Regions from separate parts of the Homo sapiens genome. Here region 2 is reported to be linked to region 1. The links are microRNA targets in miRTarBase. Many come from high-throughput screens and were not tested one by one. Region 1 holds a microRNA gene; the other region holds the end of a gene's coding sequence.
What was found. The annotated mature microRNA hsa-miR-627-5p reads GUGAGUCUCUAAGAAAAGAGGA and lies in region 1 at 2,159-2,180, opposite strand. An mRNA with a match to its seed (bases 2 to 7 or 8) in the 3' UTR can be bound and repressed. Matches are read on the target gene's strand: a 7mer-m8 pairs with bases 2 to 8, a 7mer-A1 pairs with bases 2 to 7 and ends in A, and an 8mer does both.

Region 1 (4,396 bases):
GAACCCAGGAGGTTGAGGCTGCAGTGAGCCAAGATAGCGCCACTACACTCCAGCCTAGGCGACACAGCAAGACCCTGTCTCAAAAAATAAAGGAGCAGAATGAAGCCTAGAGATGTCTATTGAGGAATGTTTATACTCATATTTTAGAATCAACCAGTTAAAAACACATTTATTGAATAATTACTAGGCTAGACATATCAGAGGATAAAAATGTCACTGGCTCAACTGAGCTCCAGGGAAATGACTCAGATCAGATCAGAGCCTACGATCCCTACCCCTAGTCTTTTCTTGACCCTATTATCCCCTCCCTTTCCTCAGAAAGACAGTCTACCCAAAGACCTATTTAGGCTTGAAATATCTCAAATCTGGAAACCAAATTAACCCTAGAACTAATTCACACGGGCCCAGGTCTATTTCTGGCCCACATCAGGCCAGATCTGGGCCAGAACTAAACTGTTCACCAAGAGTATAGGGAAAAATGGCATTTCTTGAAGAAAAGTTTCAAATCAGAATTTGATTTCCTAATTGTCTATATTTAATCTACCTATGGCGAAACCAAGGCCCAGGAACATTAACTAATTTGTCAAAGGTGACATGATAAAATGATCATAGGGCAAGGAATAGTCGCCACCAGGGTTCCAAGCCAGATTAACACTAATATTACCAGTTCAGGTCTATACTGTGTTGAGACTTCATTTATAAAGTCTTGTTTTCAATTTCTGATCACCACTTACATGTGAAAGCAAAGCAGAGAGTCAAAAAACAATTGTTGAATGCTGAATAAGATAAGCATTTTTAGCTTTAAAATTAAAATGTGAGCTTAATTTTAAAATTATAGACCAGGCAAATATCACAGAACGCAAATATTTTGGCTCCGAGAACTAAAAAAAGAAATTTTTTTTTGAGACAAAGTCTGTTGCTGAGGCTGGAGAGCAATGGTGTGATCATAGCTCACTGCAGCCTCAACCTCCTGGGCTCAAGCGATCCTCTCACCTCAGCCTCCAGAGCAGCTGGAATTATAAGCACGTGCCACCACATCCAGCTAATTTTTTGTAGACAGGGTGTTGCCATGTTGCCCAGGCTGGCCTCGAACTCCTGGCCTCAATCATTCCTCCTACTTCAGTCTCCCAAAGTGCTGGGATTATAGGCATGAGCCACTTCACAGGCCATGAGAATTAAAAATTTAAAACATTAAAACAAAGATCAACAATGTACTGCTCCAGGGCCTAACTGAGGCCTTTGCATGTTTTTGTAAATAAAGTTTTATTGGAACATAGCCATACCTATTCATTACATATTGCCTACAGCTGCTTTCATGTTACAAAGGCAGAGTTAAGTAGTAACAACACTGCAAAGCCTAAAATATTTATTCTTTGGACCTTTTCAGAACAAGTTTGCTGACCCTGATTTAGAGGACAGTTGAAAAACTTAGAAATGAAATAAATTATCTATTTTGTTCTCTGGTTTCTTTTCTTACCCTGCTGCAGAAACTGACCAGGATATCTTCTCTTTCCCGAGTGCACTAGTAAGGTGCTTTTTCCCCCAGTGTTACCCTTGCTCCAGGTTCCACAAGAGAGCTCTATTTATCTTAAGCTATCTCTTAAGCTATTTACCAGAGAAATATATATTATATTGAAGGGTATGAAATTAACTGCAGATTTCTGTAGAGTGGCTCCAGGGCATAATACCTAAACACATCTATTCTCCATAAAGAGAGCACAGAAACGAAAACAAGGAAGGGCAGTGAGGTACTTTCTGCCCCAATAAAAAACACTCTTTAACAGAATACATTTCAAATACTTTAGTTATTACTCTACATTACTGACAGTCACATTTGATTAGAACTTTAGTTTTCACAGTTTCTTCGAGCCTATTATTGCATCCACCCCAACAACTTTGTGGGGCAGAGAGTTTATAGAAAACTGATGTTGGAAAGAACTTGCTCACGGTCACGCAGCCAGGGGGAAGTGCACATGAAGGCAAACCCTGGTCCTCTCTTCTTGTTCTACCCCTCATAAGCCAACAAGATATTTTAAATCGATGTTGCCTAATTTTTTTTCCTACCACCACACCATATATACAGGAAGCTTATGCCCATTAGTAGTATTTCTTATTATTGGTAGTGAGTCTCAAAGAAAAGAGGAGGAAAACAACCACCTCCTCTTTTCTTAGAGACTCACTACCAGTAATAAGTAATTCAGTAATAAGTAAACCAGCAATTCATCCTCACCTCCCAAATGCAGGTAGGGCAATACAATTTGGAGGAGAAAAACCCTAGGCATTCTCAAGTCTTCTCCCCATTTTCCCACCGTGCTCCCTCTAACCTTCAATCTCTCTTTTAATGGTCCAGGAATAACTGATTTCACAGTTGTATACTAGCTGACTATTAAAACTTATTTTTTTGCATGAGCAATGTGCACTTACCAACGTCCTTCCGAATCCTATAGAGAAGAAGATGTCCTTGTTTGGTTCCCACAAGAAGCCATTCCTCTGGAAAAACAAAACAAAACAAAAACAAAAACAAAAAAAAACCAGCTTTGAGAAAGGTCAATCAGCTTGAGTATAACCCTATTTTTTTAGCTGGGGCTTGTAATCAGAAATCAATGTGTCAAGAAAATGAGTTGCTTTTGATAGGAGGTGTTTTGCAAAGCTAAGAAATGTTTATACTCATGTTTGAAAATCAACCATTTAAAAACACATTTATTGAATAATTACTAGGCTAGACATATCAGAGGATAAAAATGTCCTGGCTCAATTGTTTTAATGTTAAACTAATAAAAAAGATAGAAGGGCTTTGTATTTTTAAGATTAAATTATTATGATTTTTATTTTTTGTTATATATACTTTTATTAAGATATATATCTTCAGATATATATTTTTAAATTCTGCTAAAAAGAATATGATGAAAGTTTATAAAATCACAAAATGGAAGTACAAATGTGAAACCAGGTATCCAACCTCAGCAATAATAGCTAAGAGGCATCCTTTAAATGCTTTTACTTTCAGGAAAATAAATGACGTAACATAATAAGCTTACAGAATTCATTATCTCAAAAGATAGTCTAGTAGAAAATATTTAATAACAAGTGTTGATGAGAATATAAAGAAATTAGAATCCTCATACACTGCTGGCAGGAATGTAAAATGGGAGAGCCACTTTGGAAAAGTCTAGCAGCTCCTCAAAAGGCTAAACAGAGTTACCCTGGGACCCAGCAATTCCACTCCTGGTTACACACCCAACAGAAATGAAAACATATTCTACACAAAAACTTGTACACAAATGTTCACAGCAGTATTATCTGTAATAGCTAAAAGATGGAAACAAACCAAATGTCCACCAACTGATGAACGGATAAACAAAATGTGGCATGTCTATATAACGGAATATTAGCTAACAATGAAAAGAAAGGAAGTATGGATATATGCTACAACACAGATGAACCTAAAAACATGATGCTAACTGAAGGAAGCCAGACAAAAGGCCACGTGATTCCATTTATATGAAATGTCCAGAGTAGGCAAATCCACAGAGGTAGAAAGATTAGCGGTTGCCCAGGGCTGGTGGGCTTGGGGGAAAATAGAAAGTAAATACTAATGGGTACTGAGTTTCTTCTGAAAGTGATGAATATGTTCTAAAATTTATTGTGCTGATAGTTGCATAACTCTGTGAATGTACTAAAAACCATTTAATTGTACACTTTTTTTTAACTTTTATTTTTTTAAGATAGGGTTCTACTCTGTTGCCCAGGCTAGAGAGCAGTGGTGTGATCATGGCTCATTGCAGCCTCCACCTCCCTAGCTCAAGTGATCCTCCCACCTCAGCCTCCTGAGTGGCGAGAAATACAGGCATGCACCACCACGTTCAGCTATTTTTTAAAAAATGTTTATAGAGATGAGGGCTCACAATATTGCCCAATCTGGTCTCCAACTCTTGACCGCAAGCAATGCCCCTTCAGCTTCCCAAAGTGTTGGGATTACAGGGGTGAGCGACTGTGCCCAGCCAAATTGTACATTTTAAAAGATGGTCTAGGCTAGTGGTTCTTAAACTTTAGTGTATCACAATTATTTGAGAGTTTGTTAAAATACAGAATGCTAGGCTCTACCCCGGAGCATCTGATTTAGTAGGTTTAAAAGTAGGCCCAGGAATTTTCATTTCTAACAACTTCCCAGATGATGCTGATGCTGGTGGTTCAAGGACCACATTTTGGGAGGCACTGGTCTAGGTAAAAAGAGGCTCAGAAAGAGTTTAAATAATTACCCTGACAGACCCATATTACATCATTCAAGGAAGGTAAGCATGTACAGATACTTCCTTAGCTTTTTGATAACATAAAGGTCACTCATTCCTTTCATAAACTCTCTTGATTCTTGACCTCTGTAAAATAAAATCTTGGA
Region 2 (4,396 bases), not on the chromosome of region 1:
ATCTTAGCTTAGCTTTCTGTCTGTGAATGTCTATATAGTGTATTGTGTGTTTTAACAAATGATTTACACTGACTGTTGCTGTAAAAGTGAATTTGGAAATAAAGTTATTACTCTGATTAAATAAGGTCTCCATTCATGGATTCCAAGGACAAGAAAGTCATATAGAATGTCTATTTTTTAAGTTCTTTCCCACGCACCCTTAGATAATTTAGCTCAGAACAGGAAATGATAGTATTAATAAAAGCTGGACATCAGGATTAACAGCTCTCTCTGGGGCCCTGAAGGTGAGAGTTCTCAGACTTGCTCATTTGCAGTTGCTTCTTTGTGATGCTGGCAAACCATCCTAGTCCCATTCAAAGGGCAATACAAAGCCTTGTGGCTGACCTCACGATGCAGCACTCAGTTTGCAAGACCGGCACCAGTGTATGCAAACCTGAGAAGGTTGGGGATGAGGATATGGGATCTTTCATCCCTGGAAATTTAGTCCAGAGGCCTGGGGCTGGAGCAGAACACCAAGCCAATCAGCTTAATGAATGGCTTAGATTCCTGCTAGGTTTGCAGAGCTGCCTTCTTTCCTTTGGTACCTTATTATAGATTGAGGAGTATTTCTGCTAAACCAAGATAGGGATAACCAGATAGCATCTTCATAGCAATGCCACAAAGGAAAACAAAAACAAAACAGTAATCCATCATATTATTCCTTAGTAACTATGCCAAGGTCATGATACTGAATCCTTAGATTGTTTCAAAATACTACTTTTCTTTGCTCTTCCTGATGTGTTTGCCACCGCAGGCAGATGTTTAAGTAAAACAGATTTTAACTGCAGCTACAAAAGCAGCAACAGGCCAGCAAAAGAGAAGTGCTATCTCAGAGAGCATGGCTTTCAGAGCCACAAGAGACAGCCTCACTGGCTGTTTCAGCTTGACTGCCATGCAAAGAAGAGAGCAGAGGGAGAACCAGCCCCACCCACTTATTCATCTTGTACAAAAAAAAAGCACCTACCAGCCTAGGCTACATAGTGAGACACTATCTCCACAAAAAACCCACGAAAACTAGCTGGGTATGGTGGCACATGCCTACAGTCCCAGCTACTGGTAAGGCTGTGGTGGGAGGATCTCTTGAGGCCAGGAAGGAGATCCAGGCTGCAGTGAGCCAAGATTGCACCACTGCACTCCAGTCTGGACAATCGAGCAAGATCCCATCTCAAACAATAAAAAAAAAAAGCGTGTAACCTCCTCAGAAGAAAGATGTTATAATCTCAGGCAGCAGGCAAGAACCAATCCAGGCTCTAAGCAAATTATGTATCTCACTGACCCCACCAAACCTCAGAAAAATTTAACAGTGAGAAGCAAAATCTCCTTTAAAGAGCAACTTAGAACAGATAGAAAATATCATACAGCTGACTTCACTAGAGAGAAAGTGCATCAACTGCTTTCACTCAACAAAAAGAAAAAAGAGATGATCAATGCAGATCCCCTCTCCTCCTGGCAGCCCTTACCCTCAGTGAAAAGCCACCACCATTCTCTCTCTGGTGGCCATCAGATCAACCTGCGGCGTTCCCACAAGACAGAATGGAGATTTTCCAAGGTATAGAGCAAGTCAGAGTACCCCAAAGAACGGCGGCAGAGAGCCAGCTCCGAAACTGCCAACACTACCATGCATACACAGTTCAGTAAGTCAAGAAAGGCCTGGTACACAGCATTCTGTAACTTTTTTTTTTATTTTTTTCAATTTTTCCTTCTTTTTTTTTTTTAAGCACTAGTCTGTGCTTTGCGAACAGAATCAAGACATTAACAAAGATCAGCTTCTCTGAAGAAAAGCATTTCTATAGAACAAAGACAGCTACATGTTTCGCTGCCATTACACAGCTCCAAAGCAGGAAAAGAAAATATTTACAAAATACAAGGTTTTTTTTTTCCATTTTTTGTTTTTGTTTTTTTTTTCAATGCTAAAAGGGTTATTCAGAATTTTCAACCTTATAAATAGAAGAAGCACTTTATGCATAGGGATATGGTGCATTATTGTATTTTTTTTTAAAGAAACAATGACAAACCCTTTAACTTGCAAACAGAAAAAAAAATCACTAATGTTGAAAATTGTGAAAAAACCCCAACCATTAAGCAGTTGTCTACTATTTTTATACGATTACAAAATGGCCAAAAAAAAAGAGTCTTCTCCCCCCTCCCCCTTTTTGGTGATGTGATCATACAGGAGACAGGCACAAGGTTAACAGAGAAGGGTGAAGGGGGAACAATGGGAACCACAGCTAGGACCAGACAATGTTCCACAGGCAAGGGGAGCGTGAAAGACCAAGAGTGGAACTAACACCGACAGGGATCTGGATGTGAAGGAAACATGGCAAAGTGAATCAGAGGGAAAAAAAAAAAAAATCACACAGGGAGATGGCTGCTCACTTCCCACAACCCCCAGTTTGCAGGGGAGTGGGAATAGAGGTTAAGTAGTCCTAACCCTACCTTCAAAGATCAGGATAGGTGGTAAAAATATTCCAAGTGGAAGGACGGGTTGTGGGTGTGTACATGGCATGGGAGAGCAGACAGGGAAGGGTACCAAGGGGCATGAGGAGGGGAACCTGAGCAGCCACAGCCAGGTTACTGCAGTGAAAGAGTCAAAACAGAGAAGACCAAATGCAGATGAAACAAAAAATCAGTCTCTTAAGTTCTGGGTGAGAAAGGAAAGGTGTTCTGCCAGCTGAGCACTCGGGGAGAGCAGCTGGCAGTTATGGCAGAGAGGCTCTGGTGGGGATGTTCCAGCACGAAAAACCAAGGGGACCCAGCCAGGAGGGCCACAGCAGAGCCAAGCCACAGATGGGAGGGGAGGGGGTAAGAGTCCAGAGCACCCTGCCCCATTCCACCCTAGCTCAAGAAGGCCATGCTAAACTGTAGCCCGCCAGGCTGTTCTGCCCTGCCCACAGGTGTGAGGGAGGGGGTGGTCATCTAAGATCAGTAAGTCCAGTGATTCAACAGTGCAGAGGATGTGCCAGGACCAGGCCAGCAGGGTCTCATCCTGAACTTCTGTTTGCCAACGGGAGGAAGTGCTCAGGTGTGTGACAAGAAAACATGGAAACAAAAACAAAACAAAAATTAAAACAAGAAAAAAAAATACCAAAGTAGGATCTAAATTCCTTAAGTTCACTAAAAACTGTGAAAATTTCCGGCATATGATGTTTGAATATCAAACGCAGAGATTTCTGAAGCTTTAATGCCAATAGTTAGTGAGTCTGTTTAGATGGCTGTCTCCCGCTCATCTGTGAGTCGGGCGCTGAGCTGTGGCTGCTGCCACCAGATGCCGACTCTTGAGGGGGACAATGGGAGGCGAGGTGGGCGCTGCCTCTGTCTCCCGGCCAGTCTTGCTGCCTGAGGTGCGTCGAGTGCAGCGGGCTGCTCGCTCCTGTGCATCCAGCTGGTCCTCACACTCCGCCTGGGGACTGTGCGCCAGGGGGAAGGTCCGCCGCTCCCAGGGCTGGACAGACTGTAGGCAGACAAGTTGCTCTTTGAGGACCCAGTCCCAGCCAGCCTGCTTCCTGCTCCAAGGCCCTGCCACAAACCTTGTGGCCTGGAGCCTAGGACCAGTCTATCTAGTGTTCCTGCGACAGTCTGGGAACACCCCTCCTAGGGTATACCCAGACAACTGTATTGATCATTTAGCAGTGATCAATACAGTTCCACTGAACGTTGAGGAGATCAATTTAAGTGCAGCCCTTTGTCCCTTCAAAAGGGGGAGGGGATGGCTAGGTCCCTCTTCAGCAGATGCTGCCCCTTCCTGGTTCCATCCCCCAACCATGCCAACCCCACCCAAAGGCTGCGTCCCTTACCTGTTCATCCAGCCCCAGCTCTGGTGTGGAACAACGGGTATCCTCACTGGCTAAGTGTCGCGGAGTGTCCCGAGCCACAGGGGTGAGGGGTGCTGAGTGCAGTTCCGGGCTAATGGGGCTCCTAGGGGACTGACCATGGGAGTATTCTGACAAAGAGTGGCTACTGCTGACATCAGGGGAGGCAGGCTGGGGGGTGGAGGGGTTGGCACTGCCCAGCTGGGGGGTTGTCCGGCCGTCTGATGACCTGTAGGACCTGCACACCAAGGAATGCAAATCTGAGTGCCTGGGAAATGTTTACTTATGGGGGTAGAGGGCATGAAAAAAGCATCCCCACTGGAGGAGTTGAGGCAAACAAACACCAACAGATTTTCCTTAGGATCCAGCAACTCCCATTTCTTCCCACTATTCTCTGGAGGGGTAGGTATACAACATTTACCATCCCAAGAAAAAAGCATGGCTGAACAATGCCAGGTGAGTCCATAGCAAAGTGCCTAGTGAATTCAGGAGGTTAGGGAGATTCGTGTAGACTTTGAAAACTGTAGTCAAAGAAAAAAAAGTAAAAG

Region 2: miRTarBase lists KANSL1 as a target of hsa-miR-627-5p. Seed matches in the 3' UTR shown: 7mer-m8 at 3,235-3,241.

The regions. Positions count from the first base shown.
Region 1 is chr15:42,197,472-42,201,867 of GRCh38, forward strand. It overlaps MIR627 (microRNA 627), which reads right to left and starts at 2,195; the gene lies at 2,099-2,195. VPS39 (VPS39 subunit of HOPS complex) reads right to left here. Exons shown (of 25, transcript NM_015289.5): 2 at 2,425-2,490.
Region 2 is chr17:46,028,214-46,032,609 of GRCh38, forward strand. It overlaps KANSL1 (KAT8 regulatory NSL complex subunit 1), which reads right to left. Exons shown (of 15, transcript NM_015443.4): 14 at 3,834-4,086; 15 at 1,703-3,490. The coding sequence ends at 3,263. It overlaps MAPT (microtubule associated protein tau), which reads left to right. Exons shown (of 13, transcript NM_001377265.1): 13 at 1-121. Among named protein-coding and RNA genes, the nearest start is that of STH, 31 kb to the left of the region's middle.